3 linked regions of the Homo sapiens genome follow. The protein of the gene in region 1 purifies or fractionates together with the protein of each later gene. This does not show direct contact. Each region holds a gene or a part of one and is shown in the gene's direction. Other genes may lie near its edges. The genes, in order: CDH16, GAS6 and CNTNAP3.

The links.
Region 2: the proteins of CDH16 (region 1) and GAS6 purify together in Homo sapiens (affinity purification with mass spectrometry; one large-scale study listed by BioGRID and IntAct). This does not show direct contact.
Region 3: the proteins of CDH16 (region 1) and CNTNAP3 purify together in Homo sapiens (affinity purification with mass spectrometry; one large-scale study listed by BioGRID and IntAct). This does not show direct contact.

Annotation. Positions count from the first base shown.
Region 1 is NC_000016.10:66,916,067-66,920,492, reverse strand, and holds the start of CDH16 (cadherin-16 isoform 1 precursor), read left to right. Parts: upstream 1-1,607; 5' UTR 1,608-1,689; intron 1,690-2,414; 5' UTR 2,415-2,427; coding exon 2,428-2,472; intron 2,473-2,767; coding exon 2,768-2,851; intron 2,852-4,063; coding exon 4,064-4,219; intron 4,220-4,289; coding exon 4,290-4,426. UniProt on the Homo sapiens protein: Cadherins are calcium-dependent cell adhesion proteins. They preferentially interact with themselves in a homophilic manner in connecting cells; cadherins may thus contribute to the sorting of heterogeneous cell types.
Region 2 is NC_000013.11:113,836,472-113,840,115, reverse strand, and holds part of GAS6 (growth arrest-specific protein 6 precursor), read left to right. Parts: intron 1-265; coding exon 266-388; intron 389-1,868; exon of another isoform or gene 1,869-1,924; coding exon 1,925-2,047; intron 2,048-3,644. UniProt on the Homo sapiens protein: Ligand for tyrosine-protein kinase receptors AXL, TYRO3 and MER whose signaling is implicated in cell growth and survival, cell adhesion and cell migration.
Region 3 is NC_000009.12:39,173,155-39,176,798, reverse strand, and holds part of CNTNAP3 (contactin-associated protein-like 3 isoform 1 precursor), read left to right. Parts: intron 1-706; coding exon 707-850; intron 851-3,644.

The DNA of each region.
Region 1 (4,426 bases):
TTTATTCAATTTATTCATTCCACAGACTCCAGGGAGCCCTGGCAACCTGGTTAGAATCCTGATTGCAGCTTATTGAATGGCAGGAGGAGGCTTGAGGGCTGCCCCTCCATGTACAGGGGAGCGCTGAGATTCACCCACGTGCTCCCCAGGGCAGAGGTAACTGCTCAGAGCTGTTGCTGCTCTGCCCCTCCTCCCCACATACTTCAAGGAATGCAGAAGGCATGGTATTTTCAGATCAAGTGAGGGTCCCCAGGCCTTCCTGGCTCTGTCACTTATTGACTGTGTGACCCTAGGCAAACCACTCAGCTTCTCTGTGCCCCAGCATGTGCCCAATGCCCCTTCAGAACGCAGTATGTGGCATAATGAAGGTATGTGCTCAGAGCAGTGCTGGGCACAGAGCAGGAGCTTAACACGTGTGAAACCCCCTTCAACCTCCCCACACTACACTGCTCCAGGCTGGGTGCCAGAGTGACCCTGAAGCAGGCACTCAGCTTGTGACAAGGCTGGGGGCAGCTGGGGGTAGCTTCTGGCCTGAGAGAGACTAATCAGATGTACAGTGGGAAGGACTTCGTGGGGACCATGGGAAGCTCCAAGGCTGGAGAGGGACTGGAGACCTTCTTCCCACCCTCTCCCCTCATTCCAGACTCCCAGGCCCCAGAAGCATCTCCTGGCTCTGCTTGGCTGCCCTCATTGCGGGGAGAGCCCCTGTTCAGCCCTGCAACTCCCTCAAGGTCACCTGAGCCAGTTTAATCTTCTTAGGGGCATGAGACTGCCCACTGTCTCAGCCCTGTCACTGTTGAGTGGCCAGTGTAAGGACTTCGGGAGCTCATAGGCTGCTGCACTCCCCCACCACAGGTCCCCCTGGGGGGGGTGGTCTGGAGCCCCAATACCCACTTCCACTCATGTACTGCTCACCCATCCTTTGCAACCTCCAGCTCCTTGTCTTAGTTCCACAAGCCATGCGGAGCTGCCAGGGCAGAATGAGAGCCAGGTCATTCCTGAGTCCCTGAGTTCTGCTCTCAAAGGGCTCCCAATCTAATGGAAGAGGCAGACAATGACAAGCTGGTGTCCTCTGTGTATTAATAGAGATAGCACATGGCATGGTGTGAGGGGGAGGGGCATTCCCAGAGGAGGCTCCTGAACAAGCCTGGGAACATAGGGGAAGTTTCCTGGAAAAAGGAATATTTGAGCTGAGCACTGAAGCATGCATGAGCAGGTGCTTACCACACAGATGAATGAGTGGGAAGGGTGTTCCATGCAAAAGGAACAGAGTGTGAAAAGGTGTGGCTGCAGACACTGGAGCCTGGGAGATAAGTCAGACCAAGTCTGGAGCCACAGAAAAAGTAACGTCCAGAACCAGAGGGCCAAGGAATACCTCCTGGGCTGTGCTGGGGTCGAGGGAGTGCCAGGCCAACCATCTCCCCACCTCCTGGAGCTGGCAGTCACGGATGCTGAGCAGCTCCTGGCTTTCCAAAGTCAATGAGTAACTTGGGGGGCTGGGCGGGGCCAGGCCTGCTGCTGTGGGCCCAGTGGCCTTTTCCACTCCTGAGCAAGCGTGGCTGAACCCTCCTACCTGCTCAAGTGCCCTGCCTTGCCCCACCCAGCCCAGCCTGGCCAGAGCCCCCTGGAGAAGGAGCTCTCTTCTTGCTTGGCAGCTGGACCAAGGGAGCCAGTCTTGGGCGCTGGAGGGTGAGGGGCTGGGAGTGGAGGGGAGGGCATGGCTGAGGCTGAGGTTGGTGGTGGGGAAAGGAGAAACACTGCCCTGTCCTCGCCATCTGGGAAAGAATTCCCAGGGCCTCATCTTAGAGGGGTTGTCGATTTGTCGCTGCTCTGCCTGCCCAGCTCCATGACAAGGGCTGGAAAATGATGAGACAAGGGCCGGGCTCCTGCTCCGGGGGTTCTCCTTGTCTAGAAGGTGGCAGTGGGAGGCAGGACAGTCCCAGAGGCCCTGAGCTAGGAGGACTCCTCCTGTGGTCAAGTCCTCTGTGACCTTGGCCAGACCCCAGCATTCAGGCCTTGCCTGCAACAAGAGGTGACTTCAGGAAGTGACCCTCCAAGTCTTCAGGAACTTTCCAGCTTCAAACTTTTGTGATTTGGGGGATTGCTAGAAAATTACCACTTTGGGATCTGCGGCCTGGGGAGGCTATGGTGAGAAGGAGCTGGAGGTCTGGAGGTGAAATTCTGATAGAGTGCTTGATGGACCAAGAGCCTAGAAGCAGGGTGGCTGGGCCTGGGGGCCTTGGTGGGCCTGGCCGAGGAGCAGGGCACTACCCTGCAGGAGATGGAGAGCCTCAGCTCCTTTGGAGGGGAGGAAGAGAAGACTAGTCTGCAGTACGATCCCACTAGTTGTGTGTGTGGGATGGAAAGCCCCTCCCTACCCACCTGGGCTGGATCCTCACTGCCGTGTCCCTCAGGCCTGTCCTGACCATGGTCCCTGCCTGGCTGTGGCTGCTTTGTGTCTCCGTCCCCCAGGTGAGCTAGGCCCTGCCCCCTCTCCTTCAGGTCTTGGCTTTGGGGGTTGACACCCTTGCCCCCAACTCCACCTGGACCAATTGCACTGACCGTGAGAACGGTGCAAGGCATGGGAGGGGTCAGAGCTGGGACTATAGAGCCACTGTGGGATGAGGAGGTCAAAGACCAGAGCGCGGGTGGATGGACTAAGGTACAGCCAGGCCCTGGGAAGGGGCGGAAATTCCGCTCTTCTGTTGGGTCTCAGTGCCCACGCAGGAAGATAGAGCCTGGTGACAAGGTGAGAATCCTCCCACAGGCTCTCCCCAAGGCCCAGCCTGCAGAGCTGTCTGTGGAAGTTCCAGAAAACTATGGTGGAAATTTCCCTTTATACCTGACCAAGGTGAGCCGGAGAGCTGGGGTTGGGGCCGGGGGGATCCCTCCCCGCAAAGTCCTGCTTCTCCTTCCTCTGGCACCCTTCCTCTTGCTGTTTCTCTTTGAAATCCTGCTTTCCAGAGAGTATGTACACGTTACACAGGTTGAGTGTCCCCTATCTGAAATGCTTGGGACCAGAAGTGTTTCAGATTTTGGATTTTTTTTTTTCTTCAGATTTTGGAATATTTGCATATATATCATGAGATATCTTGGGGAATGGAACCCAAATCTAGATAGGAAATTCATTTATGTTTCATATACATCTTATACACATAGCCTGAAGGTAACGTTATACATTTTTTTTTCTTTTGAGACGAAGTTTCGCTCTTGTCGCCCAGGCTGGAGTGCAGTAGCATGTTCTCAGCTCACTGCAACTTCCACGTCCTGGGTTCAAGAGATTCTCCTGCCTCAGCCTCCTGAGTAGCTGGGACTACAGGCATGCACCACCACTCCTGGCTAATTTTTTTTTTTTTTTTTTGTATTTTTAGTAGAGACAGGGTTTCGCCATGTTGGCCAGGCTGGTCTTGAACACCTCACCTCAGGTGAGCCGCCCGTCTTGGGCTCCCAAAGTGCTGGGATTACCACTTTGGGATTTGCGAGCTGGGGAGGCTATGGCCAGAAGGAGCTGACAGTACAGAGGTGAAATTCCGACAGAATCCTTGAGTGGCCAAGAGCCCAGTGTGAGTCTGCTCCTGGGCGAATATTTTTAATGATTTTGTGCATGAAACAAAGTTCTGACTATGTGTTGACTGTGACCTGTCACATGAGGTCAGATGCGGCATTCTGTACTTGTCACATCATATTGGCGCTCAAAAAGTTTCAGATTTTGAGTATTTCAGATTTCAGATTTTCGGGTTAGAGATGCTCAACCTGCAGTGGGAATGACTAACAGATTTTAATCCTAGTGGAGAGCAGAGCTTTAGATTAAAGAACGAAATCTCGGTGGTGAGGTTTCAAGCTTCAGAAAGAAGGGCAGAGAGTTTTGGGGAGCATCAGGTCCAGGGAAAAGAGTTCTGGCTCTGAGTCTCAGTCCTGATGCTTACTGGCTGTGTGACCTCTGACAGGAGCCAGATGTCTCTGAGACTCAGTTTCCCCACATGTAAAATGAGGCCATCAGGTGGAGGAGGGGCATCTCCCAGGCCTGGCCACCGCTCCCTTCACTTCTGTTCATTTCCATCAGTTGCCGCTGCCCCGTGAGGGGGCTGAAGGCCAGATCGTGCTGTCAGGGGACTCAGGCAAGGCAACTGAGGGCCCATTTGCTATGGATCCAGATTCTGGCTTCCTGCTGGTGACCAGGGCCCTGGACCGAGAGGAGCAGGCAGAGTACCAGCTACAGGTATGGCTGGGCCAGGTGTAGGGGAGAGCAGGCAAGGCAGAGCCAGACGCTGACTCCCCTTCCCTGCCAGGTCACCCTGGAGATGCAGGATGGACATGTCTTGTGGGGTCCACAGCCTGTGCTTGTGCACGTGAAGGATGAGAATGACCAGGTGCCCCATTTCTCTCAAGCCATCTACAGAGCTCGGCTGAGCCGGGGTACCAGGCC
Region 2 (3,644 bases), on another chromosome or scaffold:
CCTTCCCACCTTGCGTCCAGGCCTGCTGGCACTCCCTCCCAGTTGATCTGAGTTTTCCTGGAGCCGGCCCCAGGGCCCGCCAGCCTATTCTGTCAGCCCTAGGCCAGCACAGAGGGCTCGGGTGCCCAGGGGCTGCCTCAGCCTGCGCCCCTCAGAGCTCCTCCGGGCTGGACCCGAGACCCCACAGCCGCCCCGATCTCAGCTGCGTTGGGCGCGCAGGGGTGGGGCAGCTGAACATGATTTTCCACTTTGTGTCCCCAATCAGACCTGCCTGACCAGTGCACGCCCAACCCCTGCGATAGGAAGGGGACCCAAGCCTGCCAGGACCTCATGGGCAACTTCTTCTGCCTGTGTAAAGCTGGCTGGGGGGGCCGGCTCTGCGACAAAGGTACGTGAGGCTGAAGACAAAGGCGGGGTCTCCCTCCATCTCCGACCCTGCCCTGATCCCCGCTCCTCACTCCCACTCCGGGGCACGGCCATCCTCAGGCTGCTCTCCGACAGCCCCAAGGAGGCTGCAGCCCTGAGGTATCCTGGAGCCCCAGGAGAATTGGGAGGAGCTGCAGTCTCCTTTCTGGGAGCAGGGCTGGAAGGAAAGGAAACACCAAGTGATGCCTCAGCACCCACTGATTGAAGGGCGGGGGGGGAAATTTCACCTCTGACCGTCCTTGAGTGCAGACCTGTGGTGTCAGTGGCACCCACTGATTGAAAGGCGGGGGGGAAATTTCACCTCTGACCGTCCTTGAGTGCAGACCTGTGGTGTCAGTGGCACCCACTGATTGAAAGGCCGGGGGGAGATTTCACCTCTGACCGTCCTTCAGTGTAGACCTGTGGTGTCAGTGAAGACCCTGGAGGAAGAATAGCTCCAGGGCCTGGTGGAGACCCATAGTGGAGAGCCCAGCAGGCCAGCCTGTCCCCTTTGGCAAATCCTACCCCACAGGTGGCCTGGGAGGGCTTTGCTAAGGAGTGGCCAGCTCTGGCCTGGCCTTGTCTGTCCTCGGCACCCAGAGGTCACTCCTGGCCTGCAGCCTCCTCCTGCAAGCACATGGGCATCCAGGGAGCTGAGCCCTGTGGGCTGTGACTGCCAGCAGCTCCCCAGGCTGAGACCGCAGCTGGGGATCCCCCATGCCCTCCCACCATCTACCTCCACACGCAAGGCCAGGACCAGGGGCCATGAAACGCTAGGGCTGCTGAGTGGGGTGTGAGGTCCAAGCCCTGGGGTCCCTCTCTGCTCCAGGGCTGGGCTGTGCACCTCTAGGATCTCTCTCTGCTCGGGGGCTGGGCTGTGCACTCCCAGGCTCTCTCCCTGCTCCAGGGCTGGGCTGTGCACACCCGCGGTCCCTTCCTCCTGCTCCAGTGCTGGGCTGTGCACCCCCCCGGCTCCTTCCCTGCTCCAGTGCTGGGCTGTGCACCCCCGGGCTCCCTCCCTGCTCCAGGGCTGGGCTGTGCACCCCCGGGGTCCCTTCCTCCTGCTGCGGGGCTGGGCTGTGCACCCCCGGGCTCCCTCCCTGCTCCAGGGCTGGGCTGTGCACCCCCGGGGTCCCTTCCTCCTGCTCCGGGGCTGGGCTGTGCACCCCCGGGCTCCCTCCCTGCTCCAGGGCTGGGCTGTGCACCCCCGGGGTCCCCTCCTCCTGCTCCGGGGCTGGGCTGTGCACCCCTGGGCTCCCTCCCTGCTCCAGGGCTGGGCTGTGCACCCCCGGGGTCCCTTCCTCCTGCTCCGGGGCTAGGCTGTGACCCCTGGTCTCCCTCCCTGCTCCAGGGCTGGGCTGTGCACCTTTGGGATCTCTCTCTGCTCCAGGGCTGGGCTGTGCACCTCTGGGCTCCCTCCCTGCTCCAGGGCTGGGCTGTGCACCTCTGGGATCTCTTCCTACCGTAGCCAGGGGCTGTGCACCCTTGGGCTCCCCTTCAGGCCTGTGCTTGTTCCCAGATGTCAACGAATGCAGCCAGGAGAACGGGGGCTGCCTCCAGATCTGCCACAACAAGCCGGGTAGCTTCCACTGTTCCTGCCACAGCGGCTTCGAGCTCTCCTCTGATGGCAGGACCTGCCAAGGTAAGGCCCTGGGGTGAGGCCTCTCTCCTCTCTCCTCTCCCCACCTTCTATTTTCGGTCATGTCTGCTCTTCTGCAAGCGGCTGCTGCTGGCTGGGTTCCTGTGGTTCTGGATGGGATGGGGCATCCTGCAGAGACTACACAAGCCCAGGCCAGCCGCAGCACAGGGAGCTGCTCGGCACCACACCAGGATGACTCACCCGGCATCTGAGGGCCAGGACTCAGGGGGCCGGCCCAGCCCATGAGGCCACACTGCTGGCTGTAGGGCCTCGTCCATTCCCCAGAGCCTCACAGAGCCTGGAAGTGCTCCAGGCACTTGTGTAGTGAGCTTGTGGGTCAGGGCTCCAGGCTAGGGTCCCCCCGCCGTCCACTCTCCCCAGCATCCCCAGAAGCACCCCGTTGTTGGTCTCCCTCTGTCCACTAAATATAGCCCTGCCCTCCCCACTTCCTTTCATATTTCAGTCTGGGGTTCCCTCAGCCCAGGGCCAGAGCTGGGGAGCCCCAGGACACCCCAGAAAGTCACTGTGAATGTGCGCGCCCCCGACGCTGTTCCAGGTGCTGCTGCTGCCACTGGCCCTTTGCCACTTTGCAGGGGGAGCACCTTCCTCCTCCCTCCCCACGTTGTATCTGGACATGCCCAGGCGTGTCCCTGAGAGTTTCTGGCATAGTTCTTAGCGCTGCTGCTGACTGTCCAGGACACCGAACTGCGTGGACAGGACAGACAGTTGCTCAGGGAGAAACAGCCCCAGGATCTGGAGAGTGAATCTGACCAGACAGGAGGGGCCACACCCCATCCCCCGATTTCAAAAGGCAGCTGCTATTTCTGTCCACTTTGGTGGTTCCCTTCCCTGACCACCCAGGAGTTAGCCCTGTGTGCAGATGACGTGATTCCCATCTTAACACATAAACCCATTTCCCCGCCGAGGACAGAGCCCCTCCCATCACTGCTCTATCCCTGACCTGGAAGACAGCAGCACCCCAGGTTTAAAGAGAGGTGAAGACTAGGCCGATCCTGAGAGATGACGTCTAAAGCATCTCCCGTGGGTCCCTGCACCAGTCGGGCACTCCCGGCAAAGTCTAGGCTCACAGTTACTGCCCACAGTGACAGAGGCATTCCCGTCCTCTCCTCCTCCTCCCCATCTTCCTCTTCCTCCCCACCATTCCCCCTCCTCCTTTCCCCACTCCCCCTCCTCCTCTCCCCACTCCCCCTCCTCCTCCCCCCCACTCCCCCTCCTCCTCCCCATCTTCCTCCTCCTCCTCATCTTCCTCCTCCTCTTTCTTCTCCTCCTCCCCCCACTCCCCCTCTTCCTCCCCATCTTCTTCCTCCCCCTCCTCCTCCTCATTCCCCTCTTCTTCCTCCTCATTCCCCTCTTCTTCCTCCTCATTCCCCCTCCTCTTTTTCCCCCTCCTCCTCCCCCATCCTTATTTCCCCTCTCCTCCTCCTCCCCCACCCCTCCCCACCCCCTCCCTCACCCCTCCCCACCCCCTCCCTCACCCCTCCCCACCCCCTCCCTCACCTCCTCCCCCACCCCTCCCTCACCTTCTCCTCTTCCTCCCTGCTTCTCCTCCTCCTCCCCCTCCGTCGTCCTCCCCCTCCGT
Region 3 (3,644 bases), on another chromosome or scaffold:
CAACCCATTGCCCATATGTATCTAAGCTACACTGTTAAATAGCATCTATTCTTTCAGTCCTTTACAGGACACCTTAAAGTGTATGAAGGATCATAACAAACCAGAAAAACTGTGATATTTACTGGCGTAAGTGGCTTTGGCATATAATATTAAACTGAAGATCCTAGTCCTATACCGGATTATTCAGTTTTATTACTTTAATTTAACCATGTAATAGCAAAAGATAATATCTAATGCAGAGGTTGGCAAACTATGGGCATCAGGCCAAGTTTGGACATTTTTTAATTAAAAAAATACAAAGCCTGTTTTTGTTCAAAAGAGAAGGTTTTATTGGAACATGTTCTCTTTCTTTATGTATTGTCCGTGGCCACATTGGTACTTCGTGTCAGAGTTGAGTGCTGCAAAAGAGATCATATGACCCACAAAGGGTAAATTTACTACATGGCTGAAAATTTCAATGTGGCAGAAAATGTGTGTTGACTTCTTCCTTTTAAGTTTGTTCAAAACTGTGTGGTGCCAGAAATAAAGGTATTAACAGCTGTCATTATGATAGAACACTTCATTTGGAATAAGCAAGCATGCAAATATAAGATAATGGGAATGGATTTGTGACAGTTAGTACTAGACCTATTAATTATAAATGCTTTAAACACGTACCATCAGAAAATCACTAAACAATGTTATTTATGTCATTTTTCTTTCTAAGATCAGCTTTGGGGGAATTCCGACACCCGGAAGATCGCGGGCATTCAGACGTAAAAGCTTTCATGGGTGTTTAGAAAATCTTTATTATAATGGAGTGGATGTTACCGAATTAGCCAAGAAACACAAACCACAGATCCTCATGATGGTAAGGAAGCCTAATGGGAAGGAAAGAAAAAAGGACATTTTATTTTTTGCATTTAAAAATTATTCATGTGAAGTCTCCATTTCATCTAATATTTTAAGAATCAGTTCTTACTTTAACAGCTGCCCATGTAATATAGTAATTTAGTTTTATTTATTTATTTATTTTTAAGACAGAGTCTCCCTCTTGTCTCCCAGGTTGGAGTGCAGCGGCGCAATCTCAGCTCACTGCAGCTTACGCCTCCCAGGTTCAAGCAATTCTCCTGCCTCAGCCTCCTGAGTAGCTGGGATTACAGGCGCCCGCCACCATGCCCAGCTAATTTTTGTACTTTTAGTAGAGACGGGGTTTCGCCATGTTGGCCAGGCTAGTCTCGAATTCCTGACCTCAGGTGATCTGCCTGCCTCGGCCTCCCAAAGTGCTGGGATTACAGGTGTGAGCCACTGGGCCTGGGCCAATTTTTTTTTTTTTTTTTTTGAGACGGAGTCTCACTCTGTCGCCCAGACTGGAGTGCAGTGAAGCTCTGCCTCCTGGGTTCACGCCATTCTCCCGCCTCAGCCTCCCGAGTACCTGGGACTACAGGTTCCCACCACCATGCCCGGCTAATTTTTTATATTTTTGGTAGAGACGGGGTTTCACCATGTTAGCCAGGATGGTCTCGATCTCCCAACCTCGTGATCTGCCCACCTCGGCCTCCCAAAGTGCTAGGACCACAGGCGCACTTTTTTTGTTTTTGTTTTTGTTTTTGTTTTGAGATGCAGTCTTGCTCTGTTGCCCAGGCTGGAGTGCAGCGGTACAGTCTTGGCTCACTGCAACCTCCGCCTCCTGGGTTCAAGCCATTCTCCTGCCTCAGCCTTCCGAGTAGCTGGGACTACAGGTGTGTGCCACCACACCCGGCTAATTTTTTTTAGTACAGACAGGGTTTTGCCACATTGGCCAGGCTGGTCTCAAACTCCTGACCTCAGACGATACACTTGCCTCGGCCTCCCAAAATGCTAGGATTACAGGCACGAGCCACCTTGACCCAGCCTAATATAGTAATTTTTATTATGCATAAAAAGTTATAAAGTAAATATGCCTCATGGGACATCGTTGTTTCATTTTTATATGAAATAAAATAACTTTCTATTTTTACATGGAAATCAGAATTCATATGTCTCACGTGTTTTTGGTGTTGTTATCCACAGGAGACCAATCATTTTGCAATGGCAATCCCTAATGATCTATTCCCTAATCAACTGGAAATACTTCCAAATCAGTTAATAAACTTCTTTCAATGTTTAAAGTTTGAAATATCCAAGTTGGGGTTAAAGGGAAAGCTCATGTTTAGTTGTCAGTGTATCTCAGCAGCACATCATGGGAATATTTATTTGTATTGTTGGGAACATGTTTTCTTTCCTGTTATGTGCTGGAGGAGTTGGCTCATGGGTTGCAGGACCAAAACCTGAAAATATCTCTGACTGTGTGTCACCAGACCACACAATGAATACATCACTTAGGTTAGCATGAGAAAAAGGGAAAAACAGCTGTGAAGCCCATGAACTTTCCAAGAAGGTAAAGGAGAAAAAAAAAAAAAAAGATGGGTTTGAAGTCTAAGTTTTACTATGAACAGCACCCTGCTGAGATCATAAAAATGAAAAATACCATCAAGATACATGAAAAAGGAAACACCAAAGGGAAGAGTGATAACAAGGCTCCACAGAGTGCAGTTTCCTTTGACAAGATGAAAAAGAAATGAAAAGAGGAAGGAGATAAATGGAACAGCCCTCTACCTAAAGTTTCTGTCCATGGAGAAACTGACATTTAAGTGCTGCTCAACAGGAAAAAGAAAAAAGACCTGGTTATTGAAGTTGGCTTTGTTGGAGATGCGTTACTCAGATACAGATACAAAGATGGGTTTGGCCAATGGGCATCCGTGTCAAGAAGCCTGACCTAACACGTTCTGAATATTAAGCTACCTTTTATCTGCCAGTCCTTGGTGTTCAGAAGAATCCCTCCTCCTCACCCTAACTTCTATGGGGCTATTTACAAAGACACTGTCATTGAAGTGAGGAAGAGTGAGTTGGGCCTTATGACACAAAGAGACAAGACTATTTGAGGACAACAGACACAGGTTTTCATATACATTCCATGTTATTCTGAATTACTGATGGGTTCACTGATGGAATTATTGAGTATAGCCAATAAGGAGAACCACAATTAAGCTGGTATCTCTGGGTTCTGGATATCATCCTCAAGAAAACTATTTACTAATTACATTGAATGAGGTTATTAAAATGTGTAAGTTTCACACAAAAACAAAAAGACAATTCATTCCAAATTGTGCATATGGATATATAATGTTAATTATGGGAATTCCATTTTAAGAATTACTACAATTCTATGTGTTCTGTATAAAAACAGGAAAATAGTTGTTCCAATATATAAAAGGAAAACATTTAAAAATGTATTTTGTTGGGAAAATCAGTTGCCAGAATTCATTCAGTCAACTAACAAGCACTCCTCTGTGGCAAGAAGCCCTGCCTCTCTGTTGTAGCAGGCAGCTACCCACCTAAATGATGAGGTCAAGAAATATACAGCTGATAAAAAGATAAAAAATATGTAATAGTCCAGTGATTACATGTGTACTATGGATCAGTGCCAATTACTTGTAAGCTTTTGGTATTTAGTTTGTTACAGCAAATGTTTTCTTTTTTAAATTTTCTTCTGCAAATGTTTTCTTGTCATGAAAACTGTTTCCCATTTGGCAGAATTACAAAAACAGTCAAGAAGAAATGTTCTGATTGATGTATACAGTTAG